Regions from separate parts of the Homo sapiens genome. Here regions 2, 3, 4, 5, 6 and 7 are each linked to region 1. The links come from fine-mapping of genetic effects on gene expression. A gene starts in region 1. Each other region holds a variant in brackets. All regions are shown on one strand. Distances are from middle to middle.

The links.
Region 2: its variant is fine-mapped to the expression of TBC1D9 in whole blood (TOPMed, PIP above 0.99).
Region 3: its variant is fine-mapped to the expression of TBC1D9 in testis (GTEx, PIP above 0.99).
Region 4: its variant is fine-mapped to the expression of TBC1D9 in whole blood (TOPMed, PIP 0.92).
Region 5: its variant is fine-mapped to the expression of TBC1D9 in whole blood (INTERVAL, PIP above 0.99).
Region 6: its variant is fine-mapped to the expression of TBC1D9 in whole blood (INTERVAL, PIP 0.93).
Region 7: its variant is fine-mapped to the expression of TBC1D9 in whole blood (TOPMed, PIP above 0.99).

What each region holds. Positions count from the first base shown.
Region 1 is chr4:140,754,842-140,758,909 of GRCh38, reverse strand. It overlaps TBC1D9 (TBC1 domain family member 9), which reads left to right and starts at 2,525. Exons shown (of 21, transcript NM_015130.3): 1 at 2,525-2,994. The coding sequence starts at 2,865. RefSeq lists enhancers at 2,003-2,052, 1,543-2,184, 2,185-2,827 and a silencer at 2,483-3,172.
Region 2 is chr4:140,805,810-140,809,877 of GRCh38, reverse strand. No RefSeq gene overlaps it. Among named protein-coding and RNA genes, the nearest start is that of TBC1D9, 51 kb to the right of the region's middle. The variant T/C (reference allele first, on the strand shown) is at 1,832.
Region 3 is chr4:140,640,890-140,644,957 of GRCh38, reverse strand. The region is part of intron 13 of TBC1D9 (TBC1 domain family member 9); the gene reads left to right. It also overlaps the pseudogene TNRC18P1. Among named protein-coding and RNA genes, the nearest start is that of TBC1D9-AS1, 69 kb to the left of the region's middle. RefSeq lists an enhancer at 691-1,364. The variant G/T (reference allele first, on the strand shown) is at 2,097.
Region 4 is chr4:140,716,141-140,720,208 of GRCh38, reverse strand. All of the region lies in intron 1 of TBC1D9 (TBC1 domain family member 9), which reads left to right. Among named protein-coding and RNA genes, the nearest start is that of TBC1D9-AS1, 6.0 kb to the right of the region's middle. The variant T/A (reference allele first, on the strand shown) is at 1,669.
Region 5 is chr4:140,784,080-140,788,147 of GRCh38, reverse strand. No RefSeq gene overlaps it. Among named protein-coding and RNA genes, the nearest start is that of TBC1D9, 30 kb to the right of the region's middle. The variant T/C (reference allele first, on the strand shown) is at 2,130.
Region 6 is chr4:140,703,968-140,708,035 of GRCh38, reverse strand. All of the region lies in intron 1 of TBC1D9 (TBC1 domain family member 9), which reads left to right. Among named protein-coding and RNA genes, the nearest start is that of TBC1D9-AS1, 6.2 kb to the left of the region's middle. The variant CAT/T (reference allele first, on the strand shown) is at 2,522.
Region 7 is chr4:140,796,812-140,800,879 of GRCh38, reverse strand. No RefSeq gene overlaps it. Among named protein-coding and RNA genes, the nearest start is that of TBC1D9, 42 kb to the right of the region's middle. The variant T/G (reference allele first, on the strand shown) is at 1,964.

The DNA of each region.
Region 1 (4,068 bases):
CCAGCCTAGGTGACAGAGCGAGACTTTGTCTCAAACAAAACAAAAACAAAAGATTGTTGTAGGGGAAAAGGTGTGATATCTTTCCTTCCCATAAGGGTCATAGCCAACACACCTATAACAAAAGACAGGCTAACAAGAGAAAAGCACAACACATTTGTTTAATCAAAGTTTTAGGTGACATGGGAACCTTCAGAAATGAAGACGGAAAAACCCAGGGAAACCTGTCTATTTTTTTTTAATAGAGATGGGGTCTCTCTGGTTTAATACAGATGGGGTCCTCCTGGCTCTGCCTACCAAAATGCTGGGGTTGCAGGCATGAGCCACCATGCCCAGCCTGTTTATTTTTTTGAGAGAGTCTCGCTCTGTCCATTTTTGTGCTTAGGTTCAATGAAGAGTGGGCAGCCATGTAGATGTGGTTGGACAAAAGGGTAAGATCCAATGGTAATAGACTGAGAACAGACCCAGTCTGTCTGTTCAGATTCTTCTTGGCCTCTCCGTATAGCTTTCCCTCCTCCTGGGTTTAGAGCAGGACTCCTTTGGAAAGGGGACCTACTATCCAACAAGGTAGGGTAGATAATTTCTTTATTTCTCTATTCTTTATGTCTGCTCTTACACAGAAGAGTGAGGAATGGTAATATTTCTAGGTTTTGTAGCTTCCTTTGGGAAGAGGGGTTTTAGTTTCTATGACCTGCCTTTAGTTTCCATGACTCACTTTGGGGGAGAAAGAGAGGTGGGAGACAGGAGGGCAGAAGGAGGTCAGAGAGAAACTGCTTCTGAGGCCTTTCAATCTCCTTTAGTTCAAAGTACTCAGCATGCCAAAGCACCATGCTTTGTGGTATCATTTTCCAAACCCCAACATGGTATTAAGGCACTTAGAGTTTTTAAAAATACCAATTATATCAAGTAAAAGAATACCTATGGAAACACTTCAAAAATATAAAAGTTACATGATATATTAATATAATTTTTGCATATGTATGACTTATAATCTTATTGTTTGCTTTTTATTTGCAGATTTTGTGACTGAAGGCACTGCACTGTGACCAAAAGTGCCAAATGAGTTTTTTGAGTCTGTGTTAAATACATGAGGTTTCCACTGATGCCTGGAAGAAGCAGATCAGTCTGTGTGGTAACATCAAGGGAAACTTCCATTCCTTGAGAGCCCAAGCGGTAGGAAGCGAACAGATGAAATGGCAGTCTCATTAGAATGGCTGGTGATTTGCTCATTCGACTAATTGAAGGAATTCAACAATTCAAGTCGGAGCTACAAAAGTCACAATTTTGAAGCCCACACAAGAAGGTTTCATTTGAATCTCTGCTCATTTGGAAAGGGAAAAGTCCCTAGGATTGCCCAGCATCCACAACAAAGCAGAGTCTGCTAAATTCCCATCATTTGGGAAGAGGAACTTTTTTTTTTTTTTTTTTTTTTTTTTTTTTGGCTGAACTATCCTCCAGATCTCCTGGGCGGGAGGAAAAAAAAATGGTCATCAGATATGTAGGCAGATGGGCTGTGATCACCACTGGAAGCTCGAAGTATTTGGGGAAACTGAAACTGTCTAGGGATAAAGCTGCCCTGGTTTGTGTGTTTCTGGTTTCACTGATTAAAAAAAAAATCCATCTACCAAGAGTGGATAAATTTTAAAATTCTGCCATGCCCAGTTTTCGAAGCCCCAAATGCGATATAGGAACAGCTGTGGTGTGAATTAGTTGGTCTAAGCTTTTGGGCCGCTTCCAACTTCTCTATTGCTCACGCCCTACAGGTCAAGGAAAGAAGTGATGTAATGCACTTAGCTAGGCCACTTTAATTACAATGGAATGGAGAGGGGGGAGGGGTCACAAGCGGTGACAAGTTTAGCGCATGACTTGCCCTGGGGATGCAGGAAACAAAAACATCGACGACCATTGGCTGCGTTGGCTTCCGACCCCGGGTCTCTAACCGAGCTCCAGGTCTGGAACCTTGAAACACTTTTCCTGGGAAAAGGGGTGGCGCTATCCCATAGAGCGTCAACCTTAAACACAAACAGCACACACGCACCCACGCAGGCTGGCGGCGTCCTCCCTGCTGGGATGGGCGTCGGGCCCAGTGCTTGGCACACGGTCCCCAGGAGCTTCCCCCGAAGGTTCCCCCGAAGCCAGCCACAGCTGCTCAGCTCGGCGCGCGGAGCCCGCGGTGGTACCGAGTCCGCACAAACCCGGACCCGCTCCAAGTGAGCCGCGTTGTCGTCATTCATTCGCAGTGTCCGGAGCGTCCTTCCAGCGGGGAGCTGGGCTTCCCTAGTGGCGCCTGCGGCCCCGACACGGCGCGTTAAGGCGCGGCGACTTCGGGAGCTCGAGCAGGTAGAGACGGGAGGGGCTCTGGAGCTCCAGTCGGCGCCGCGGGAGCAGCAGCGCCGGAGCCCAGCTTGGCCCTGACCGCGGGGCCGAATCCGCTCGGGTGGCCCTTAGCCCTGCCTGGCGCTGAGCCGGATCCCGGGACTGAGCTATACCACTTCCTCCTCCTCCCGCTCCCTTCCTCCTCCTCTTCCTCCTCCTCCCGCTCCTCCCGCCGCCGTGGGCCGGGAGCCGGGCTGCAGAGTGCCAGGCCGGGCGTCTGCGGCCGCGGGCTCTCGCGGGGCGGCGACGCCGCGGGGAGGATGCTGCTTGCCGCGCCCGCGTCCTCACCGTCCTCCCGGGCCGCCTGCTGGGGCTTTGTTGTGGCCCGGACGCCGCGGGCCACCCCCTGAAGTCGCCTGCCGCCGCCGCCGCCGCACCTAGCGGACGGGCGGGCGGGCGCGCGTGTGCCCAGGAGTGCGCGCCTGTCGCGGTGGTGGGTGCAGGACTGGACCCACGGGCCCATTGTGCGCCCGCCCGCGGCAGCCAGGACCATGTGGGTGAACCCGGAGGAGGTGTTGCTGGCCAACGCGCTGTGGATCACCGAGAGGGCCAACCCATACTTCATCCTGCAGCGGAGGAAGGGCCACGCCGGCGATGGAGGCGGCGGCGGCGGACTGGCGGGTAAGGACCGTGGCCGATCCCTGCAGGAGGGGAGCCGGGAGCGCTGCGGCGCCGCCCGCGGCCTGGGCTGCAGGCTCGGGAGACGCCGCCCGGTCCCCTGGGGCTGGGCGACCCGCCCTGCCTCGTTGTATGCGAGGCATCGAGAGTCGTGATGTTCAGGTTGGGCAGAGATGCTTCTTTTTTTGACTCTGTCAGGCTTGGGGCCCTCAGCGTACTGAGCGCTCTTTAAGTGGATATGTTGAGGAGAATGGGAAAGAGTGAGTCTGGGGCGGAGGGAATGTATTATCCCCTATATATTGAATGCATCATTCCCTTCCCCTCCCCCCCTTAAAAATATTGTTTTCCAAATGGAAAAGAGGGATGGAAGAAGGTTAATTTTTGCTCCACTTTCTTTACTGGCAACAGCAGGATCAGGTATAAAATGCTCTTTTGTTTCCAGGGAAGCGATAAGTAAGGAACTGATGTGGTCATTTCCTATATGAGTTATGACCGAAGAGAATGAATACGGAAACAGGAATTTTTTTGTTTCACCTAATTAGACATAAAGCAAAGCAAATTGTCTGGTTCTAGTTGTAAAAATAATTGGCTGTATAACTGCATTTTAACTATTTTTGCTCAATCACTTCTTCCCTAAACCCCCTCCCTTCAAGGTATTATTGTAATTGTTGCTGAAGCCATGTCATATCATTCAGGATAATAAGATCAGTCAGACCCATATCCAAAGTAGTGCCATATTAGAAATAATCTCGAACTCATACCATACTAGAGAAATTGGACCTTCTCCATCTCTGTGTTATTTAGAATGAACAGAACTGGAATACTTTTTACAGTGAAAAAGTTAGCAGAAGAAATAGTAGAGGTTTCACTAGAAAGGAGACTGCAAAAAAGAGATGAACTTTGACCCTCCTCAGAGTTGAGCTTATATCAACCTCATATATCACCTGGAGTTTGCACAATAGGTAAATTGTTGCTTTCAAATGCTGTGCTATGAAATAAAGATTCTTGATATATGTATTTACTTATGATTATATTTATAAACTAATTTTCTTAAGATTAAAATTCAGGTGTCATGTG
Region 2 (4,068 bases), 51 kb before region 1:
GCTATGTTCGTACTGGATTACATAAAGGAAGCTGCAGGCTGGTCAGCCTCCATCTCAGAGCTGTGACCTTGCTGGATCTTGCTGCTTTGTGGAGCAGTGCTTAATATTTAGGGCCTTAAATTGAAATCAGGCACCCGAACAGATATTTGTACACCCTTTTTTTTTTTTTGAGAAGGAGTCTTTCCCTGTCGACCAGGCTCCAGTGCAGTGGTACAGACTTGGCTCACTGCAACCTCCACCTCCTGGGCTTAAGCAATTCTCCTGCCTCAGCCTCCCAGGCAGCTGGGATTACAGGCATGTACCACCATGCCCAGCTAAGTTTTGTATTTTTAGTAGACAGAGGGTTTTTGTCATTTTGGCCAGGCTGGTTTCAAACTCCTGACTTCAAGTGATCCGCCCTCCTCGGCCTCCCATAGTGCTGGGATTGCAGGCATGAGCCACCGTGCCCGCACCCGGCCTGTACACCCATCTTCATAGCAGCATTATTCACAATAGCCGAACAGTGTAAACAACCCAATCCGCAGATGAATGGCAAAACAAAATATGATGTAGAATAGACATACAATGGAATAGTATTCAACCTTAAAAAGGAAGGAAATCCTTATAAGTGCTAAAACTAAGTGAACCTAAGTGAAATAAACCAGACACCAAAGGACAACTATTGTATGATTGTACTTATATGAGGCACCTAGAATAGTCAAGTTTATGGAGACAGAAAGTAGAAAGGTAGTTACCAGGGACTGGAAGAGGCGGGAATTTAGAGTTGTTTAATGAGTACAGAGTTTTAGTCTGGGATGATTAAAAACTTCTGCAGATGAATGGTTGTGATATTTGCAAAACAATGTGAAGGTATGTAATGCCACTGACCTGTACGCTTAAAAAAGGTTAAGATGGGGCCGGGCATGGTGGCTCACGCCTGTAATCCCAGCACTTTGGGAGGCTGAGGCAGGCGGATCACAAGGTCAGGAGATAGAGACCATCCTGGCCAACATGGTGAAATGCAGTCTCTACTTAAAAAAATACAAAAAAAATTAGCCGGACGTGGCGGCGGGCACCTGCAGTTCCAACTACTCGGGAGGCTGAGGCAGGAGAATGGCATGAACCCGGGGGGACGGAGCTTGCAGTGAGCCGAGATCATGCCACTGCACTCCAGCATGGGCGACAGAGCAAGATTCTGTCTCAAAAAAAAAAAAAAAAAAAAAAAAAGGTTAAGATGGTAAATCTATGTGATAAGACAAAAACTTCAGCTGAATTAAATTTAAAGAAGTTTAATTGAGCAATGAACTATTCACAAATCAGGCAGCCACGTGGTGGAAGATTCATGGACAGAATAAGGAAAGGGAGGTTCGGAAACAGCTGGATTGGTTACAGGTCTGCATTTGCCTTATTCGAACACCGTTCGAACGGTTGGCTACATTTCATTGGCCAAAACTTGGTGATTGGCACAACTGTAGGCTATGGTCTGTTTACACCTCCACTTGTTATAGTTTACAATGTACAGCAAAACCTTTAGGCTGAACTTAAAATACGTAAGGAGGCAGCTTTAGGCTAAACTTGATTTAACATATGTGTCTTTTACCATAATTCTAAAAGAGAAGATTTAGGGCTTCAGGGTTAGCCCAATCTGCGTTCAAATTTATGTCTACCACTGACTAATGATACTGCTTTGACCTTGACCAAATTTGTTAGGCTAAGAGCCAACTTCCCCATCTCTGAAATGGAGATGATAGTATCACCTGCTTTACAATGTTATTGTAAGGGTAAATAGCACAACATATGTAAAACTCTGAGCCCAACACTCAGCAGATGGAAATGTTGAAAGAATGTTGTT[T/C]ATATTATTAGCTGTTATCTTCTGGGAGAAGAGAACTGAAACCTCTAAGAGGAACTAACAGTTTGCAATGCTCTGCTTTCTTTGGCTGAAGTTTTCATGACCCTCTGCATAAATAAACGAGTTTAAAAAAAAAAATCTTCTCAGTTGTGCAGATGTTCCTTTCCAAATATCCAAGTTACTCCAGGAAGCAGGAGAAAACAACTCCAAATCAGAGAAGACTGGACACATGAGTAGAACAGGAATAAAGTAAACATATCTTAAAATGCAAATAAACATTATCTGCAATAATGCAAAATGAACTTGCAACCATCTCGATTAAATGGGGGAAGAAATCCTGTAGAGTCTAACAACCAGGAGGTGGTACACGGCGATTAGCTGTCCAGCACCCTTTAACTTAGGCTGGGTTTAATGCTACTAACAGTCTATTTAGTTAGTATGCCCTCCACTGTTTGAGTTTAGAAAATGTGACAATATTCATAAGTTCCGCCAAGGTTGGTTCTTCTGTCCTACTTTTCCCATAAAACCTGTTACCCCACCATGGAATTTCCTACTACTTTTTAGGCTAAAGTTTCCGGAAAATAACATTTAAGTTTTATGGAGGGAATTTTGTTGTATCATTGGTTACTTTCTAAGTGATTGTTTCTTCCCAGTACATTTAATTTAACTGTCACCAGTTACACTCGAGTAACAGAGAACTCTGTTTTCTATCTGCAGTCTTCCCTTTGACTGTATCAAACAATGCAGATCTTCAGCTCTGCCACTACGCCAATATCTCCCAGCTCAATCCTTGGTCTTCAACAAACAGGATTTCCACTTACCTGCTCTAACACCTGAGGATAGATGAATATTTTCCTGCTTACCCAACACACTTTGACCCAAACTTAATCTACCAGTGTCTTTGCTAACCAGCTCACCTATGCTGCCTGGACCTCCTGTTTCCAGGTGGGAAACCAGGACTGCCATATAGAACCCATGGCCTGATGGCAGCACCTGGCTCAGCTTGCCAAGCTCTATGCTTAGGGAGGTGACTTTATCCAGTTTTCACAAAAGTTCTGCCCAGGTTGTAAATGGTCTAGTGGACGATCACAGATACCGCTATCTGTAGAACCTCTCTTTGCCATCTGGGTCACATCCAGTCGGTTGCCAAGTCCTGAAAATTATACCTCCTTATTAATTCCCACATTTGTATTCTCTGAAAAGCCCTGCTCAAGCCCTCAGTATTTCATGCCCTACACACAAAGTTCTAAATCATAGAGTATCAAAATATTCTATGGAGCTTTATAAAGTGCACACTCCCCAGCCCCATTTCTGGAGACTGTAAATCCACAGATCTGGGATGGGGACCGGGCATAGTTATTTTTAAAAAGCTCTACAGACAATTTTGATGTATGACTCTCTCTGGTTGAAACTACAATATTCAGCCTCTGGTCCCTCAACCCCCTCCCTCCCAACCATAGTTGACCATTTAAACACTGCTGTCCAGTGCATCTTCACTGTGAAGATGGTACTGCACTCTTGATCTTTGGGACAAAATTTAGAATCAGAACAATAACCAGAGCATATACTCTTTCCTCTTAAAGATCGCAAGTGATGAGGTTAATGACGCAGTTGGAGAAAATTCTGGTCTGACTAACACTTTCATTAGAAACTTGGTTGCTCTGCTTGGCTGGCTAGGTGTTTGTTTCTCAAGTTTCTCTCCATCCTGGCCATTGCTATCCTCTATCACTAAGACCATTGCAATAACCTTCTAACCGGTTTCCCAACCTTCTGTTTTACTTCCTACTCTGCACTGTCACAAGTGAATCCATTCTCTGCACTGCCCACAAGTGAAATCATTCTGGACGTAAATTTTAGCAAAACATTAATTATGTTTAAAATTCTACAGCGATTTCCCAGTACCTTGTGAGAAATTCCATACTCCTACCAAGGCCTTCCCAGAGCTGGCCCATGACTAATTCTCTTGCCTTATGGCTGGCCTTTATCCCTTATGTCCACTAGGCTCAAGGACCCAATAAAGTTCTTGTAGGTCCACAAATGCTTTGTGCTTCTCATCCCTGCACCTTTCTTAATTTTTTTTTAAAATAGGGATGGGATCTCACCATGTTGACCAGGCTGGGCTTGAACTCCCGGACTCAAACGATCCCACCTTGGCCTCCCAGACTGCTAGGATTACAGGTGTGAGGCCATCACACCTGGCCATCCCTGACCTTTCAACGCACTGTTCCTCTATCTAAGAT
Region 3 (4,068 bases), 110 kb after region 1:
GGGACCTCCATCTCTGCACTAGGGCATGGCCCCTGCGTTCCCACCCAGCCTGGGGGCTCCCTGCTGTCGCCCTACCAGTTTGTCAGGGACTCCCAGTCGGGCCAGCTGTTGGTCATTCCCAGAGATCACCTGCCTCACTTTGCGGAGCTGATGGAGCGGGCCACCGTGCTGCCCCTTTGCCCCGCCCTGTACTCTCCAGGCTGCAGCCCCCTGCACCAGGCCCAGCAGTTGCAGCTCTTTTCGCTGCAGCACTTCCTGCAGCTGCAGGAGTTCCTGTACCTGCAGCAGCGGGCGGCCCAGGCCCTGGAACTGCAAAGAAGCACCCAGCTGGAGCGGCTGAAGGCGCAGAGGAGTACCAGGCAGAGATGGAGGAGAAGTGGAGCAACTGGGGCCTGGGGGCCGGGGGCAAGGCTGGCCTGGCCACCGCTTGCCCTGGGATGCTGCTGCGAAAGCCCCCCGCCTGGCTGCCGGCCCTGCGAGCATCTATGGCAAGGCGGTGAGCCCGCCGCCATCGCCCCGCGCGTCCCCCATGGCCGCCCTGAAGGCCAAGGTCATCCAGCCGCTGGAGGACGTGTCCAAGGCGCCTGCCTACACCTACCCTGCTACCCCTAGCTCCCACCCCACCAGCCTGCCTCCCCACTCCCTGCTGTCCACCCCGGGTATCACCCGCAAGGAAGAGACCCCCGACAACGTGGTCGAGAAGAAGGACTTGGAGTTGGATAAGGAAGCCCCCAGCACTTTCCAGGCCTTGTTCTCAGATATGCCGCCCAGGTATCCGTTCCAAGCCCTGCCACCACACTACGGGAGGCCCTACCCTTTCCTGGGGCAGCCCACAGTGGCCGCCGATGCGGATGGCCTGGCCCCTGATGTGCTGCTCCCAGCTGATGGGACCAAGCGCCTGACACTCTCGCCCGAAGACAAGCTCATCCTCCTGTCCCCCTCCAAGATCCCAGAGCCGCTGCGGGAGGACCCGGAGGAAGAGCCGCTGGCTGAACAGGAGGCGAAGGTGGAGGTGGAGGATGTGGACGAGCGCCCCGCAGAGCTGCCGCCTCTGGAGTTGCCGCTGCCACTGCCCGCCATGGAAACCATGGCTACCCCGAGCCCTGCAGGCGGATGCAGAGGTGGCCCGTTGGAGGCCCAGGCGCTGAGTGCCACCGGGCAGGGCTGCACCGAGCCCTCTGAGTGCCCAGACTTTGCGGAGGGGCCTGAAGCATGCGTGGATTCCCCGGGCCGGACAGAACCCTGCACGGCCGCATTGGACCTGGGGGTGCAGCTGACACCCGAGACGCTAGTGGAGGCCAAGGAGGAGCCAGTGGAGGTGCCTGTGGCGGTTCCTGCGGCAGAGGCAGCGCCGGAGGAAGGCCTGGCCCAGGCGGCCCTGAGCGAGCCCCAGCCCAGCCTAGAAATGTCAGACTGTGACGTGCCCGCCGGGGAGGGAGAGTGCCCGAGACTGGAGCCCCGGGAGGCCGTGCCTGTGCCCGGCAGCACCTGCTACCTGGAAGAGGCAAGCTCTGAGCAGTTCCTGCCCGGCCTGGAAGACCCACTGGCTGGCATGGAGGTGGCCATGGAGCTGCCCCAGGCCAGGCCTCTGCCCTCCCCAGGTGCTACTGGAGTCCAGGCCTTGGAGAAGCAGGAAGCTGCCGAGAGCCTTGTCTTGGAGCAGAGCTTTCTGCACGGCATCACCCTGCTGAGCGAGATCGCAGAGCTGGAGCTGGAGAGGAGGAGCAAGAAGGTGGGAGGTGCGGAGCGGGCCCTGGTGGCTCGGCCCTCACTGGAGAGCCTGCTGGCAGCCGGCAGCCACATGCTGAGGGAGGTGCTGGATGGGCCCGTGGTGGGACCCGCTCAAGAACCTGCGGCTCCCACGGGAGCTGAAGCCCACAATAAGTACAGCTGGATGCGCAAGAAGGAGGAGCGGATGTACCCCATGAAGTCCTCCGTGGAGGACATGGACGTCCTGGAACTGGACTTCAGAATGTGGCGGGCCGAGGTCCAGCACCAGTACAAGGAGAAGCAGCATGAGCTGGTGAAGCTGCAGCGGCGCCGGGACTCCGAGGACAGGCACGAGGAGTCCCATGGAAGCTTGGCACGCAGGCCGT[G/T]GAAACAGACCCACGCCCCCGAGAGCCCTGTCGCCCGCCCGCAAGAGGGGGAAGAACTGCAACAGTAGCGGAAAGCTGAGCAGCAAATCTCTGCCGACATCAGATGACTATGAGCTGGGAGCAGGAATAAGGAAGAGACACAAAGGGCCCAAGGAGGAACACAATGCCCTTATTGGAACAGGGAAAGCCAGGGAGAGGAACCAGACTTGGGATGAACACGAGGCTTCGTCTAAGTTCATAAGTCAGCTGAAGATTAAGAAGAAGAAGATGGACAGCGACCAGGAGCAGTTGGCAAGCAAGCTCGACAAAGGCCCTCTCCCTCACCAAGCAGGACAAGTTGAAGTCACCCTTCAAGTTTTCAGACAGTGCTGGGGGGAAATCAAAAACTGGCAGGGGCTGCAGCAAGTACTTAACTCCTTATGACAGCCTGCTGGGCAAGGACAGGAAGGTGCTGGCCAAGGGCCTCCGGCCTGTCTCTGAAATCTTCCAGAGAAGGTAAACACAAAAGGGCCGCCAAAGCCAGGAAGATAGGGGTGGGGTTCAAGGCCAGAGGCCAGCCCAAGTCGGCCCATTCCGCGTTTGCCTCCGAAGTGAGCAGCTACTCTTACAATACAGACTCAGAGGAAGACGAAGAATTCCTGAAGGAGAGTGGCCCGCCCAAGGCCCCTCCGGCTAGCTCCAAACTGATGCCTTCCCTCCTGTGTGGCATGGTGGCAAAGGACAGCAAGGCAGCTGGCGGCCCCTAGCTGACCAAGAGGGCCTGGCACACACCCCCTCCTCCGCCCCCTCCCGGACTCTGAAACCTAAGCCAGCCACCAGCAGGAAGCAGTGGTTTTGTTTGCTGCTTCGAGAGGCTAAGGTGCATTCCTCCTTCAGCGACTCTTCGGAAGATTCATTTGACTAAGGTTACTATCTCCAAACACAAAATACTTTCTGTGTTTCCTAGCGAGAGAGTGCCTGCGAGTGAGCGAGAAGGAAGCGAGTGGGCGCACGGGAGAGATGGGGGGTGAGGAGGCCCGTGCGGATGGCCGCAGGAAGGCCGCCATCTGGGTTCTTGGCAGTGTAGCCTGCTGTATCGGCCAAATTATTTTTATTTTTGCTTTGATTTGTACTGTATCGTTGTGATAATATCGCCGGCTAGCTCTTTTTGAGCTGTTATATGGACTGCTTCTGAGTCTGCATTTTTCTCCACTTTCCTTCCTCTCCGCCCTCCTCCCCCTACCCCGAGTTCCTCCCCACCCCCATACTCACCTTTTCTGCCCACCCAGAGACCCCAGGCTGTGGTCAGGCTCTCTTTGGGCACGGGCCCAGTGGGGGCTTCCCGAGAAACATTTTATAAATGGAATTCTGTCATGTGGGCGTGTGACTTGATGTTTGTACTGCGATTTTGATAATACCAAACTTTATTAAACATACTGAGTTCATTTTTAACAACAACAATAAAACAAAAAGTGGAGGTGATAAAAATGGTTGCAAATTCCTGGGGAGTAGGTATTGATAAAGAGGTCAAAGGCTCACAAAGGCACTCTTTTTAAAGCCTCTGTTTTAATACACTCATGTAACTGTTTACTCAGATCAAAAGATAGAACGTGCTAGCAACCTGGAAGTGCCCCTTGTGCCCCTTTCATATCACTGTCCATCCAACCATGGTTAATAAATCTCCAGACTTCTAAAAGCGTAGATGATCTTTGATTTCTTTTGAACTTGATACAAATGGAATCTCACGGAATATGCTCTTTTGCTTCTGTTTTTTTTTGTTTTTTTTTTTTTTGCTTAGTATTATGATTGTAAGATTTAAATATATTGTTCTTTTTATTGCTGCAAAATAGTTGATTATGTGATGATATTGCCATTTCTTTATCCATTCTGTGCATGAGCATTTGAGTGGTTACTGACTTTTGGTTAATAGTGTCACTATTAATATTCTAGCATATGTCTTTCGGTAAAGTAAAATAAATCTATATATATATAG
Region 4 (4,068 bases), 39 kb after region 1:
AGCACTCCCTTGCTATTGAGCTGATGGACTTACTGCTCCCCACACATCCCATGTGCCTTCCCACCTTGGGGGCTGCCTTCAGCCACCGCAATCGGTACTATTTATTGAACACCTACCAAGTGCCAGGTGCTGTGCAAAATTGGTTCATGTGCAATATTTCCTTTAATCCTCATTACAACCTCTCAGGAAGATACTATTATCTTCATTAAGTGGGTGAAGAAATTGTGGTTTTTATCAGTTATATAGCTTGCCCCAAGGTCATGACCCTAGGAAGCAGTGGAACAGGGATTCCACCCAGGTTCTTAATGCAAAGCCTGTGGTTTTGAAAAGCTACCTTCCACCAAACCCAACTCCAGGAGGCAGTTCAAAACAGTCTCCTGCATGAGTATGCCAGCCTTGGGTAAGTACCGTGTAACATCTTCTGTATTACCCTTGAGCTATGTACCCTTGAACTGACTGAGCAAATGACCATTCTAATGATTGCTATTTGTATGTGCTGCTTCTTTCTTCGCAGCCAGATCCTATTCTCAAAGACATCAGTGATAGATTATATTTCTAGTGCCCAGCAAAGCTTCCTCTCCACAGGTGCTCAGTGTCTATTTCATGATGCTAAGGATGAAATCACATCATGCCTCCAGGACTAAGGCCATATTTTTCCTTTACCTCTTCTAGACACTAATAATCATGGTGACTACTTCCTGGGATTCAGAACATAACTTTAGCAAGCACTTCCTTCCAGTGCCCAGCTTCCTTCTCTGTAGAAAAAGAAGATGCAAGTTTATGTCTTGACGCTCCTTCCCTGCTCCAAAATTAAGCATTATTTAAAGAAAAATCCTAGTTAGATTACATGAGTGAGAGACTCTACAGTTTTTGAAGCACTCCCATACACAGTATGTCATCTGTTTCTCAGCAGCCCTGGGAGACTAGCAGGGAAGATGAAATATCCCTGATGTAGTGGCAGGAAACTATGACTCAGAGAAGCTAAGTGACTTGTCTGAAGCCACACAGCTTGTGAGTGGGGAAATGAAGACTTGAATCCACTTTCTTTTATTTATTTATTTATTTATTTATTTATTTATTTATTTATTTATTTTGAGATGGAGTCCTGCTCTGTCGCCCAGGCTGGAGTGCTGTGGCATGATCTCAGCTCACTGTCACCTCTGTCTCCTGGGTTCAAGTGATTCTCCTGCCTCAGCCTCCGAGCAGCTGGAATTACAGGCACCCACCACAGCCAGCTAATGTTTGTATTTTTAGTAGAGACTAAAAATACAAATTTTTTTTGTGTTTTTACAAAAATAAAAACAGCCTTGCCATGTTGGCCAGGCTGGTCTTGAACTCTTGACCTTAAGTGATCCATCCACCTTGGCCTCCCAAAGTGCTGGGATTACGGGTGTGAGCCACCAGGCCAAGACTGAATCCACTTTCTCTGATTACTTTACACAACACTAGGTAGGAATATTAGGGACATTCTTATTGCTGTCATAGAAATAGGCCAGAACAAACATCTAAATGTTTTTCCTTAGACTGCTGGGTGCTCTTTCGGATTTAAGTTAAATGAGCTTAGTTTTTCTAGGGGTTTCCCTGGTGATCTTCTGGAAATTATTTGAAAATAGCCATGTTGGTAATTTCCTAATCATGTGGCTTGTTCGTTGTGAAAATGTTCAGTCA[T/A]TGTTGTTGCTTATTCATTGGACTGTCTGGGAAGAGCTAAGGAGGTATGAGGCCCTGGGTTTATGTGGGGTAATTATTACATGGAGGATTATATAGGGTAGCTCTGACTCTGTTTTCCTCAGGGTTCATTCAGAGGAGAGAGTAATGAAGACCAGAGATCCTCACACTTTTGCAAAGAGGGGATTGTTCTGTCTTAATAAAAATGTTCAAAGAACTAGCATAAAGATCAGGCAAATGTCCTGTGAGTCACCTCCCAATGTGCATAGCTGAATGTACTTTTTTTTTTTTTTTTTCTGAAAAAAGGAACAGAAAAAAAACTAGGTATATCACATTTAAATAAAATAAAGCATATTTCATTTAACTTTTTAAAAGCAAACTATGGGGAAACTATATACTATTTACTCAATTGAATTAGTATATACTAATTACTCAATTGAATCCCATCAGTATGCATTGAAATTAAATGTATAGAAATATTGTAGAGTAAAGCACTATTATCTAAAATGCTTTTATGCTTTATTTGTTCTAATACAGAGCTTTCTACCTATTTTCATATCATAGCATACTTAGAAAATGATAGTGTTTGCAGGGCACAAAAGGTATCCTAAGAGCCAAGAGAACAAGTATATTGCTAGCTTGTCATCATTTCCTGGGGTACCACTGGGAAGTTGTGACCTGTAGACTTAAAGAAATAAGTTGGGGGGCTCCTGGGGATACCATGGCTTTCCAGTCTGTCTTTCATGACTGCACTGTGTTCTACCCAGTGGGAACCCTGAGAACATGAAACACATACTTGTCCCAATCACATAATCTTCACGCTGCACCTGAGCTGTAGAAAGAATCTGTTTCCCTGATCTGTGTTCTAGATTTCATAGAGGCCCCGGCCTTCCACCAGCAAAGGAAAAGTTTTGAAGCCAGCAAGTTCTGAGATGAGATGCCTAGTGCTGCCCTTGCCCATTTTCAGCTGAAAGTGAAGGTTTATTGTACCCAGTATATGCTTCAGATAAATTAATTTGATAGTCATAAATGAAATATTGTCCCAACAGGAAAGCTGAGTCATGTCTAAAAGGATTATGCATGGTGAATTAGCCATTAACAAAGAATCATTGCCATTATTGAATCATTTATGTCATAGTTATTGAACAGGAAGGCCTCTACGGTTAGAAGAAGCAGCTTAAATGTTGTTGTTTTTATAACTGGAAAATTTTAAAAACAACAACTTGGGCTTTTCCCCTCTCCCTCTCTCTTTCCTGACCCCTCTCCCAACTCCGGCTCCAAAACAAGACAGGAAAGTTGGGCAAAAGCTCCTGTCTGCATCTCCTGGTTCAGGTAACATATGTTGATTCTCTAAAGGATTATGACTTTTATTTAGGGTGATGTAACAGAACGTGAGGAAGAAAGTGAAACCTTTGTTTATTCAAAGAGGATATTCTTTGAGAAACACTGGCATAAAATAAATTCTTGCAGGTGACTGTCTTTTAAAAAGTTTCAAAATATTTATTTTGATATAACCCAAGTCTTTCATTGTATTATTGTTTTATTAAATGCAGAGATAGGTTGAGACCAAACCTGGAGTTGCTTTTTTTGTTGTTGTTGTTGTTTGTGTTTTTTTTTTTTTTACAGCCCCCATTACTCTAAACTCAGTTTAAATGAGCATGTTTTAAATCAGCATAGTGGGTTGTAGAGGGTGTGGGTGTGTGTGTGATTTTTGCTTTAAGGAACTAGGTGTAGACAATATAATTAAGGGTGAAAAAAACGTAAGTTCTTCATTACTTTAAATTTCCCCATTCACTAATCAATAATATAAAAATAATTTCTCCCACCTTGTGTTTTTGCTCATCAGTTTCTAACTGAGGATGTAAGGAGTCAGTGATACTGTTGGTATCCTACCCCTCTGTTGTGACAAGTTTATAGCATGAAAAGAGAATGGTTTCCTGGAAATGACTTTGTAATTACTTTGCAAAGAAGGGCCCCCAACTCTAGTACACTACTTTTGTTATTGCCAATGATGATTTCTTCTCATCCATTATTGATATTTTTTTTTCTTTTTTGAGACAGGGTCTTGCTTTGTCACCCAGGCTGGAGTACAGGGGCACGATCATGGCTCTCTGCAACTTCCATCTCCAGGTTCGAGGGATTCTCTCACCTCAGCCTCCCAAGTAGCTGGGACTCTAGGCAAGCTCCACTACACCCAGCTGATTTTTAAAAAACTTTTTGTAGACATAGGAGTCTCACTGTGTTGCCCTTGCTGGTCTCCAACTCCTGGGCTCAAGCAATCCTCCTTCCTTAGCTTCCCAAAATGTTGGGATTATGGGCATGACCCACTGTGTCCAACCTATTATCAATGTTTTTCAAAACAGGTTTCAAGCTATCTTCAGGCCATGACTAAACTACTTAGAA
Region 5 (4,068 bases), 29 kb before region 1:
TAGCCTAACTGGGAGGCACCCCCCAGTAGGGGCAGACTGACACCTCACACGGCCGGGTAAACCTCTGAGACAAAACTTCCAGAGGAACAAACAGGCAGCAACATTTGCTCTTCAACAATATTCGCTGTTCTGCAGCCTCCACTGCTGATGCCCAGGAAAACAGGGTCTGGACTGGACCTCTGGCAAACTCCAACAGACCTGCAGCTGAGGGTCCTTTCTGTTTGAAGGAAAACTAACAAACAGAAAGGACACCCACACCAAAACCCCACCTGTACGTCAGCATCATCAAAGACCAAAGGTAGATAAAACCACAAAGATGGGGAAAAAACAGAGCAGAAAAACTGAAAATTCTAAAAATCAGAGCGCCTCTCCTCCTCCAAAGGAACGCAGCTCCTCACCAGCAACGGAACAAAGCTGGATGGAAAATGACTTTGACGAGTTGAGAGAAGAAGGCTTCAGATGATCAAACTTCTCCCAGCTAAAGGAGGAAGTTTGAACCCATGGCAAAGAAGTTAAAAACCTTGAAAAAAGATTAGATGAATGGCTAACTAGAATAACCAAGGCAGAGAAGTCCTTAAACGAACGGATGGAGCTGAAAACCATGGCACGAGAACTACGTGACGAATGCACAAGCTTCAGTAGCCGATTCGATCAACTGGAAGAAAGGGTATCAGTGATGGAAGATGAAATGAATGAAATGAAGTGAGAAGACAAGTTTAGAGAAAAAAGAATAAAAGGAAATGAACAAAGCCTCCAAGAAATATGGGACTATGTAAAAAGACGAAATCTACGTCTGATTGGTGTACCTGAAAGTGACAGGGAGAATGGAACCAAGTTGGAAAACACTCTGCAGGATATTATCCAGGAGAACTTCCCCAATCTAGGAAGGCAGGCAAATATTCAAATTCAGGAAATACAGAGAATGCCACAAAGATACTCAGAGAATGCCACAAAGATACTCAGAGAATGCCACAAAGATACTCCTCGAGAAGAGCAACTCCAAGACACATAATTATCAGATTCACCAAAGTTGAAATGAAGGAAAAAATGTTAAGGGCAGCCAGAGATAAAGGTCGGGTTACCCACAAAGGGAAGCCCATCAGACTAACAGCTGATCTCTTGGCAGAAACTCTACAAGCCAGAAGAGAGTGGGGGCCAATATTCAACATTCTTAAAGAAAAGAATTTTCAACCCAGAATTTCATATCCAGCCAAAATAAGCTTCATGAGTGAAGGAGAAATAAAATCCTTTACAGACAAGCAAATGCTGAGAGACTTTGTCACCACCAGGCCTGCCCTAAAACAGCTCCTGAAGGAAGCAATAAACATGGAAAGGAACAACTGGTACTAGCCACTGCAAAAACATGCCAAATTATAAAGACCACCGAGGCTAGGATGAAACTGCATCAACTAACGAACAAAATAACCAGCTAACATCATAATGACAGGATCAAATTCACATATAACAATATTAACCTTAAATGTAAATGGGCTAAATGCTCCAATTAAAAGAAACAGACTGGAAAATTGGATAAAGAGTCAAGACCCATCAGTGTGCTGTATTTGGGAGACCCATCTCACATGCAGAGACACACATAGGCTCAAAATAAAGGGATGGAGGAAGATCTACCAAGCAAATGGAAAACAAAAAAAGGCAGGGGTTGCAATCCTACTCTCTGATAAAACAGACTTTAAACCAACAAAGATCAAAAGAGACAAAGAAGGCCATTACATAGTGGTAAAGGGATCAACTCAACAAGAAGAGCTAACTATCCTAAACATATATGCACCCAATACAGGAGCACTCAGATTCATAAAGCAAGACCTTAGAAACCTACAAAGAGACTTAGACTCCCACACAATAATAATGGGAGACTTTAACACCCCACTGTCAACATTAGACAGATCAAGGAGACAGAAAGTTAACAAGGATACCCAGGAATTGAACTCAGCTCTGCACCAAGCAGACCTAATAGACATCTACAGAACTCTCCACCCCAAATCAACAGAATATACATTCTTCTCAGCACCACACCGCACTTATTCAAAAATTGACCACATAGTTGGAAGTAAAGCACTCCTCAGCAAATGTAAAAGAACAGAAATTATAACAAACTGTCTCTCAGACCA[T/C]AGTGCAATCAAACTAGAACTCAGGATTAAGAAACTCACTCAAAACAACTCAACTACATGGAAACTAAACAACCTTCTCCTGAATGACTACTGGGTACATAACGAAATGAAGGCAGAAATAAAGATGTTCTTTGAAACCAATGACAACAAAGACACAACATACCAGAATCTCTGGGACACATTCAAAGCAGTGTGTAGAGGGAAATTTATAGCACTAAATGCCCACAAGAGAAAGCAGGAAATATCTAAAATTGACACCCTAACATCACAATTAAAAGAACTAGAGAAGCAAGAGGAAACACATTCAAAAGCTAGCAGAAGGCAAGAAATAACTAAGATCAGAGCAGAACTGAAGGAGATAGAGACACAAAAAACCCTTCAAAAAATTAATGAATCCAGGAGCTGGTTTTTTGAACAGATCAACAAAATTGATAGACCGCTAGCAAGACTAATAAAGAAGAAAAGAGAGAAGAATCAAATAGATGCAATAAAAAATGATAAAGGGGATATTACCACTGATCCCACAGAAATACAAACTACCATCAGAGAATACTATAAACACCTCTATGCAAATAAACTAGAAAATCTAGAAGAAATGGATAAATTCCTGGACACATACACCCTCCCAAGACTAAACCAGGAAGAAGTTGAATCTCTGAATAGACCAATAACAGGCTCTGAAATTCAGGCAAAAATAGCTTACCAACCAAAAAAAGTCCAGGACCAGATGGATTCACAGCTGAATTCTACCAGAGATACAAAGAGGAGCTGGTACCATTCCTTCTGAAACTATTCCAATCAATAGAAAAAGAGGGAATCCTCCTAACTCATTTTATGAGGCCAGCATCATCCTGATACCAAAGCCTGGCAGAGACACAACCAAAAAAGAGAATTTTAGACCAATATCCCTGATGAACATCAGTGCAAAAATCCTCAATAAAATACTGGCAAACTGAATCCAGCAACACATCAAAAAGTTTATCCACCATGATCAAGTGGGCTTTATCCCTGGGATGCAAGGCTGGTTCAACATACACAAATCAATAAATGTAATCCGGCATATAAACAGAACCAAAGACAAAAACCACATGATTATCTCAATAGATGCAGAAAAGGCCTTTGACAAAATTCAACAGCCCTTCATGCTAAAAACTCTCAATAAATTAAGTATTGATGGGACATATCTCAAAATAATAAGAGCTATTTATGACAAACCCACAGCCAATATCATACTGAATGGGCAAAAACTGAAAGCATTCCCTTTGAAAACTGGCACAAGACAGGGATGCCCTCTCTCACCACTCCTATTCAACATAGTGTTGGAAGTTCTGGCCGGGCAATTAGGCAGGAGAAGGAAATAAAGGGTATTCAATTAGGAAAAGAGGAAGTCAAATTGTCCCTGTTTGCAGATGACATGATTGTATATCTAGAAAACCCCATTGTCTCAGCCCAAAATCTCCTTAAGCTGATAAGCAATTTCAGCAAAGTCTCAGGATACAAAATCAATGTGCAAAAATCACAAGCATTCTTATACACCAATAACAGACAAACAGCCAAATCATGAGTGAACTCCCATTCACAATTGCTTCAAAGAGAATAAAATACCTAGGAATCCAACTTACAAGGGATGTGAAGGACCTCTTCCAGGAGAACCACAAATCACTGCTCAATGAAATAAAAGAGGATACAAACAAATGGAAGAACATTCCATGCTCATGGGTAGGAAGAATCAATATCATGAAAATGGCCATACTGCCCAAGGTAATTTATAGATTCAATGCCATCCCTATCAAGCTACCAATGACTTTCTTCACAGAATTGGAAAAAACTACTTTAAAGTTCATATGGAACCAAAAAAGAGCCTGCATCGCCAAGTCAAATCTAAGACAAAAAACAAAGCTGGAGGCATCATGCTACCTGACTTCAAACTATACTACAA
Region 6 (4,068 bases), 51 kb after region 1:
CAGTGCTTGTCCTTAAATTGCCCAGGGTCTGGTGGGAGGAAACCATACTTTTTTTTTTTGAAGTAGGAAACAATGTAGTAATTACCTTAGTGTAATATAAGTCAAGATGGTTGGCAGAACCCAAAAAAGCTAACAGTTAATTGCCAGGAGATTTGGGGGGCTTGAGTGTTGAGAACATTGGTTGGGAGCGTGCCGGAGAAAACAGGGACACATGCATTAGGTGACCTTGACCTGGATATTGAGGGAAATAGAAGTTTGCCAGGATGAGAAACACTTGTACAAAGCCTTGGAGGCTTTAAAAAGTAACAAGCAGACAAACAAGGCTCATTAAAGAAGTGTAAAAGTTATGGTATGGCTAGAGAGTTTGTAGGTATGTCAGCAGCTGCTTCTGAATGTTTCCATTTAATTACTTTCTGACCAGTATCATGTAAGTGTTAAGACTTCTAGAGAATGTATCACTTACATCTAAGGAGCAGCAGCCAGAAGAACAGGTGGCAGCAGGTGGCCTACAGAAACCTACCATCTTCGCAGATAGTAAGCCAGGCATGGAAGTGATGCACTGGAGAGGAAGTACTGAGCCAAAAGTCTTGCATGTGTATAGAAGATATATAAAGAAGTAAATCCAAGGATACTGCATCTCTGGCTTTAGGGAGATCAGTGAATATTTGCTGAAATGAATGGAAATCCAGTATGTATATAAATGGAAGCTTCTAGATGGTGAACTCTGAATGTCTAATGGGACCTCTTAGCAAATGTCACCACAATGGGAAAGGCAAATAACTCACAAAAAAGGAAATTGGAATGGCCAATAAACAAGAAAATTAATTAGTAATCAGAGGAATGCAAATTTAACTAACAAACAGGTACCATTTCTCACTCTAGAGATTGGTGAAAATAAAAAAAAAAACCTGGTAATACTAAGTATTGGAGATATTATGGAGAAACAGGTATTCTCACACTTTCTTGAGCACTTTAGAGAGCAATTTTGTAATATCTAATAAGGTTTAGAAATGAACTTACCCTAGGACCTGACAATTCCATTCTAAAGAAATGTGCTTAGGTGCTTAAGGATTTATGCAAACAGAATACGATTACAGTTGCATAATAGAGCAAAAAGTGTGGATAGATCCAATGTCCTTTACTAGGAAAACAGATAAGTTGTAATATACTTATATAGTGGAATATTGCACAATATTTTAAAATGAATGAATCAGATTTACAAGTATATTCTGGATAAATTTTACAAACATATTGATTGAAAAAAATAAGCTGCAGTGTACCTTGCAGACAAATTTGTAAAATACTCATCAGTTTTAAATTTTTTATATGAAAAACATGGCTCAGTAAAAGTATAAGGACCTGGATAGGAAGAATACAAAACAATTTAAGAATGGTTAATGGAGAGAGGGAAATGGGATTAAAGGAGTGCAAAGGGAACCTCACTGTGGCTGTTACCTTTTCTTTCTGTTAAAAAAAAAAATAGATCGGAAGCAGGTAAGGCAAAGTGTTAAAAAAGTCAGAGTAGTGGTACATGTATTTTGTAATTTCCTGTACTTTTCTATTGTTTTGAATGATTCATTACACAATAGTGCTTAGTGCATACTAAGCACTTTCTAGGGTAGATACTATTATTTCTTTATCAGGAAGCAGGGGCACAGAGAGATTAAGGGACTGGCTGGTATGTGAGCCAAAGCTGAGCCCACTCCCCTGACCACTCTGCCATGGATTTCCTGGATCTCTGCTTCATTTTGGACCAGCGTCAGGACTAATGGAGTCGGGGAGGCCAAGTGATCTTTAGGATCCTGTCCAGTTTAACTTTAGCCCTGATCATCAGTAGATGGATCGATCATTTCCATGAGCACATTTCTGCATGGCAGCACACTCCTGACATAGCCCGGCCTGCAGAGGGCTGACGGGGGTTTCTCTGCAGCACTGTGGACCTGCCACCTGTACCAGCTCCCAGCTAGGCTGCAGTTGTGCAGTGGTGACTGTGCATCACACATCTTCCAGTGCCCACAACCAAATGGGAAGCAAATATGGAACAATTTTGCCAAGTGTTTTCTGAATCTCCTTGAAAACAGCACTTTTACATTATAAGATGCCACTGTACTAATGTAATAGGTAGATGCAGAGAAGAGTTATTTTGAGGGCTGTAATTTGATTTCGTTATCTTAGGCAATCAAGATTGTTTAACACCAGAAATAGCTGACTAGAACAGCTGCTAAAACAGCGCTTTGTGTGGGAAATGAAGAAAAGGTTCAGTATTTTGACAGCCATTTCCAAGGTATGAGTAATGAGACTTCTAAGAAAATCGTAATTGTTGCTGCTTTTGCAGTGGGGCGGGGGGATTCTCTAGACCAGATTTCCCATCTCCTAGTATTCTACATCAATAGAGGACAAAGGAGGAGTATTTCCTTTTTCCCAGGGTCTTGACTTCATGTACCAACAGAGTTTAGATAGCATGGTGATAATTTATTATTTAGGTTTAAAACGCACACACACACACACACACACACACACA[CAT/T]GCACACACCCCTCACTTGTCCATTTATCATCAACCATGTGTTTAGTGCTTACTGGACTCCAAAGTGCAGGGCCTGTGGGTCCAAAATAATCAATTAGACCCTGCCCTCAAGGAACTCTCAGTCTGGAGAGAAGAGGAAAAAATGGGACAAGGCAAAATGTGCAAGTAATCTTAAACAAATGTAATAGGCATTATAGAGGCAGAACTGGGAGGAAGAGTAGAGTAGGAATGAGACGGCATTAAAAGATTAGGAGTTTGCTGCTGTTTGAGGTCGGGGGAGACAAGAGCAGACAGACAAGCACAACATTTTGAGTGATCAGTGTTATCCAGGCATGAAAGGACTCAGCACTTCTGGGTTAATATGGAAAGAGTCTGTTTCTTGATTTGACTGGCCAACTGCATACCTCAATTCACAATATTACTTTCTGTTTGGATATCCAGTGCCTTAAATGTTCAGGGAATTTTCACAGAAATTCTCTCATTTAAATGTATCTAATGTGAATATCCTGATATTATACTTTCTGTAATTTACTTGAAAATATTTCAGCATGTACCTGTGCTACGTACATGTATATCTGTTAGTTTTCATCCAAGTCTTAGTGGAAGTTGGTGGCGCCAGTTGTGAATGCAGAGGTAGGGTTGGTGAACTTGCATCTAATGAGAAACCCTCACTCCAGGGGGCTCTGCTTTAAGCAACTGGGTTTTCTTTATCTCTAATTGACACCAGAGGCTTTGTTAATTAGAATAGTTTATGTTGAGGTTGGATTTTAGTTGGGAACATTGTGGTGGTGGAGATATGTGGATTGGGTTAGACCTTTTCAGAGGTCTTCCTTCTTTTGTGTTACAGAGGACAAAAGTTCAGTGAGCCATTAAGGATGATAAAACTGAGGCTCCAGGAGGAAGTGGCAGAGTCAGAATTGAAGCATTCTAGAACCAGGACTGCCCCTGTCCGCTGCTCTGCCCTGCCCAGTCAATTATGCTTGCCCTTGGAAGAGTCTTGGTCTTTGATGATACTCAGAGGCTTATTAAACCACACAGGCCGATTCTTTTTTGTCCTTTTCTTTTTTTTTTTTTTTTCTGATTTTTTGTTTTGTTTGTTTGTTTGTTTGTTTGAGACAGAGTCTTGCTCTGTTGCCCAGGCTGGGGTGTAGTGGCATGATCTCAGCTCACTGCAACCTGCGCCTCCCAGGTTTAAGCAGTTCTCCTGCCTCAGCCTCCCTAGAAGCTGGGATTACAGGTGCACACCATTGTGCCTGGCTAATTTTTTTTGGATTTTTAATGGGGAAGGGTGTTCACCATGTTGGCCAGGCTGGTCTTGAACTCCTGGCCTCAAGTGATCCACCCGCCCCAGCCTCCCAAAGTGCTGGGATTGCAGGTATTAGCCACCGCGCCTAGCCCACAGGCTGATTCTTGATTGCAACCCTCTAAACCCAGACTAAAGTTTGTATGCCTTAGAACCAACATATATGACACTTGTAGTAGTTTCAGCATTTTATTTCTTATTTTGATTCAAGATGTGAGAGGTATTACAAACACTCAATTATG
Region 7 (4,068 bases), 42 kb before region 1:
CATTCCAATGTGAATGAGGGGGCAGCCCACACAGCAGACACTGTGGGAAATGTTCAGCTGCCCAAAGAGCTGTCCCCCTCTCCTGCGTTCCTGTCTCCCCCATTTGCAGTCCCAACTTAAAGTTGAACCAACTTGTGTGTTTTCTTTGTCCTGACAAAAGGAAAGGGAACTAATCCTCATTGGCGTCATCCTCTGTGCTAGCATTTGGCATGAGTTTTCTTACTGGTTCTGGAAAGCCAGGCCGCATCACAGCAGCTATTTAAAAATCCAGGTCTGGAACTTGAAATAATGAATTTGGTAACCATTAGCATGGAAGAAAAACATAAAGCCAAGAAACCTCCTTTAAGAGAGAAAACTAGGCAGATTGCTAGTGTCAAATTGCTACAGAGAAGTAAAAAAAAAAAAAAAAAAAAAAAATATATATATATGATTGGGAAAGGTCAGAAGATTTGGAGTGCATAATAAAATTGGAATGACCTAAAGCCCATCTGTTTTGTGGTGTGGTGTATAGTGGATTAAGCTCATGGGCTTTGAAATCAGATGGTCTGGGTTTACCTGTGTATTCATTCATTGTGTAAATATTGATTTGGTATTACTATTTGCTATTCTCTGTACTCATGGTGTTTATATTCTAGAAGAGATAGATAACAATCATGTAAACAAGTAGATATATAATAAATACTATTGATTAATTCATTCTCCCAATACATACTACAGTTATCTAGGAGATAGGGTCAGAAAGGCAACTAAAGCCAGAGAGTTTAGGATCTGGTAGTCCATTGTGAGGGCTGTGGCTCTTACTCTAAATGAGACAGGAACCTATTGGTGGGTGTTGAGCAGAAAAGTGACATGATCTGACTCATATTTCTAAAAGATCACTTTGGCTGCTATGCAGAGAATAAGCTGAAGAAACCTAGAGCAGAAGCAGGGAGATCAGTGAGGAGATTATCACAATAATCTCGGCGAGAAGCAGTGATGGTGATGAGGCCGGGGGAACCCCATGGAGGCAGTGTGAAGTGTTTGCAGCCGGGATCTAAGTTGAGGGTAGAGAACAGGATTTCCTGACAGATTGGGCAGGAGGAATGAGAAAAGGAGAGAAGTGAAAGGTGACCCTAAACTTTCGCTCTGAGGGATTGGAAGACTAGAGGTGCCATTCATTGAAATAAAGAAGACTGCAAGAATAACAGATTGAAGGAAGGCGGGAGGAAGATCAGGGCTCATTTTTGTAAGTTTATGGTAAACTCGAGGAAGTTTATAGACAGCCAAGTGGTATGTCAAGTTGGAAATTGGTTATCACAGCTTGGAGTTCAGAAGAGAGGTCCATGGACTAGGCGTGAGGGCTCATGCTTATAATCCCAGCACTTTCGGAGGCTGAGGCAGAAAGACTGCTTGAGGCCAGGAGTTTAAGACAAGACTGGGCAGCATAGTGAGACCCCCATCTCTACAAAAAATAAAATAATAAGCTGGGTGTAGTGGCATGCAGATGTAGTTCCAGCTACTTGGGAGGCTGAGGCAGGAGAATCACTTGAGCCCAGGAATCCAAGGCTGCAGTGAGCCACGATTGAGCCACAGCCTGGGCAACAGAGTGAGACCTTATCTCTAAAAGAAAAAAAAAAAAAAAAAAAAAAAAAGAGGTCCAGGCTGAAATAAACAGCTGCTAAACTAAAAGGAAAAATGAGGCAGGCTGTTGGAGATAAAGATCAATAAGGGTTAAGGATGCCATTCTAGATAGGAGAGCTAAAGACCTCACTGAAAAGGGATATTTGAACAGAGACCTGGTTGAAGGGAAGGAGAAACCCACTCAGTTATCAGAGGGAAGGGGAGCCCAGCAGAGGAAAGAGCACACTCAGGACTAGTGGAGAGCATGCTTGGCTTTGAGAGGAAGAGCCAGAAGTTCAATGGGGTCACCAAGAGATGGCCTGGTAAGGATATAAAACCAGAGAAGTAGCAAGGGATTACATCA[T/G]GCATTCCAGTCCTTGCTCTGCCACTTGCTAAGAGTACACCCTGGCTGGGTGCAGTGGTTCATGCCTGTAATCCCAGCACTTTGGGAGGCCGAGGTGGGCAGATGCTTGAGGCTAGGCATTTGAGATGAGACCAACCTGGCCAACATAATGAAACCCCAGCTCTACTAAAGATACAAAAATTAGCCAGGTGTGATGACACACACCTGTAGTCCCAGCTATTCGGGAGGCTGAGACAGGAGAAACACTTCAACCCAGAAGGTGGAGGTTGTAGTGAGCCGAGATCGTGCCACTGCACTCCAGCCTGGGTGACAGAGCGAGACCCTGACTCAAAAAAAAAAAAAAAAAAAAAAAAGAGTACACCCTTAGATAAATTACGTACCTTTTCTCAGCTCCATTTTCTTTATAATGGGGTAGTAATGGAACTTACCCACTTAGGATATTGAGAGAATCAGATGAGATCACGTACACAAAGCATTTAACACAGTGCCTGCAGCATAGGTGAAATTTCCCGGGTATTCACTAAGTACATTTCAAAGTGTCCTGCAGCATCTCCTGTGTGGTTTCTGGGTGAATAATTTCATCTCTCTGGGAAGTTTGGGTTTTGTGGTTGGTGTTAGGCTCCTCAGCTCCTCAGCTTCCATTTTGCTGGTCCTGCTGGCACAGTCACCCATCTGGTAGTTTGTCCTTGATAACCACAGCTCATGGGCACTTTCGGATGGGCAGGGGAGTCTGGGAGATCCACAGTCACTGACTTGAATTGCAGATGGTGTGACTCCGTGCTCACCCACAACCTCCAGCTCGTTGGTTCTAACACTGGATCTCCCCCCCGCCAACAAGGGTTACTCCAGGGTTGGCAAGACGTCCAGTCAAGTCATTCCATCCCCAGATAAGCTCTCACCAATCTCTTGGCAAGAAACCCAGTCACATCTGGCCTTGACTAATGATATTAGTCTTCACCCTGAATCTCAAGGGAGCAATGTCCCAGAGGCTTCTACTCTGGATGTTCCTTCCTCCCTACTCAACTGGCATAAAAAGGGGAGGGTTAAAACACAGAAGTTTGCTCTACTTAAGCATAGCTATGTTGGGAAAATGCATTTCATTTCATACATCAAATGTAAGTTAAGACCCCCGACACAATATCCTGGGAACACCCTGATGCAAGGTTAAGGGGGGAAAACTGTAAAGATTGAGGGAAAGAGAGAAAAAGGAGAGCAGATAAAATGAATTTTTATTAAGTCTTACCCAACATTGAGTCAACCATTCAGAAAAAAAAAATCAGATAATATGCTAATGACTACAACCTAGCCAGATGCTAACACACACCCTCTATTGTGCTTCAGAGTGAACCAGGTTCATCCTTTCTCAGGAGAGTCTGACCATTGCTCTTCCAATTTTCAGTACGAAAATGTGATAAGGAATGAGACCAAGTCAAGGGCTACGGAGAACAGGAAAAGCTGAATGCAAGCAACAATCTGACTGTCAAAGACGAACTAAGCTGGACACTAGCTAAAGCCAGAAGGATAGATTTTATTCAGTAATAACTATCGCTATAGGGAAGGAGTCCAGCAGGAACTGAACTTTAGCTTCAATGAAACAGAAGGAAGAGACTTTTTTTTTTTTTTTTTGACAGAGTCTTGCTCTGTTGCCCAGGCTGGAGTGCAATGGCGCAATCTCAGCTCACTGCAACCTCTGCCTCCCGGGTTCAAGTGATTCTCCTGCCTCAGCCTGCCAAGTAGCTGGGATTACAGGCATGCGCCACCACGCCCGGCTAATTTTTATATTTTTAGTAGAGACAGGGTTTCGCCAAGTTGGCCAGGCTAGTCTCAAACTCCTGACCTCAGGTGATCTGCCCGCCTCAGCTTCCCAAAGTGCTGGGATTACAAGCGTGAGTCATCGTGCCTGGCCTTCAACCTGAAGAAATCTTGTCATATGTCTCCATATATGATCTCATGTTCTCATCCTTTAATTCCTTTTCTTTCATTTGAAACAATGTCCTAATTTACTTCAGTGTAGAAAAATGGCCTCCTGATAAAAAGATTGTAAAACATGCTGAGAAACCTACTAAGAAAAAGATTGTAAAACATTTCATCCCTTATATGTTAAT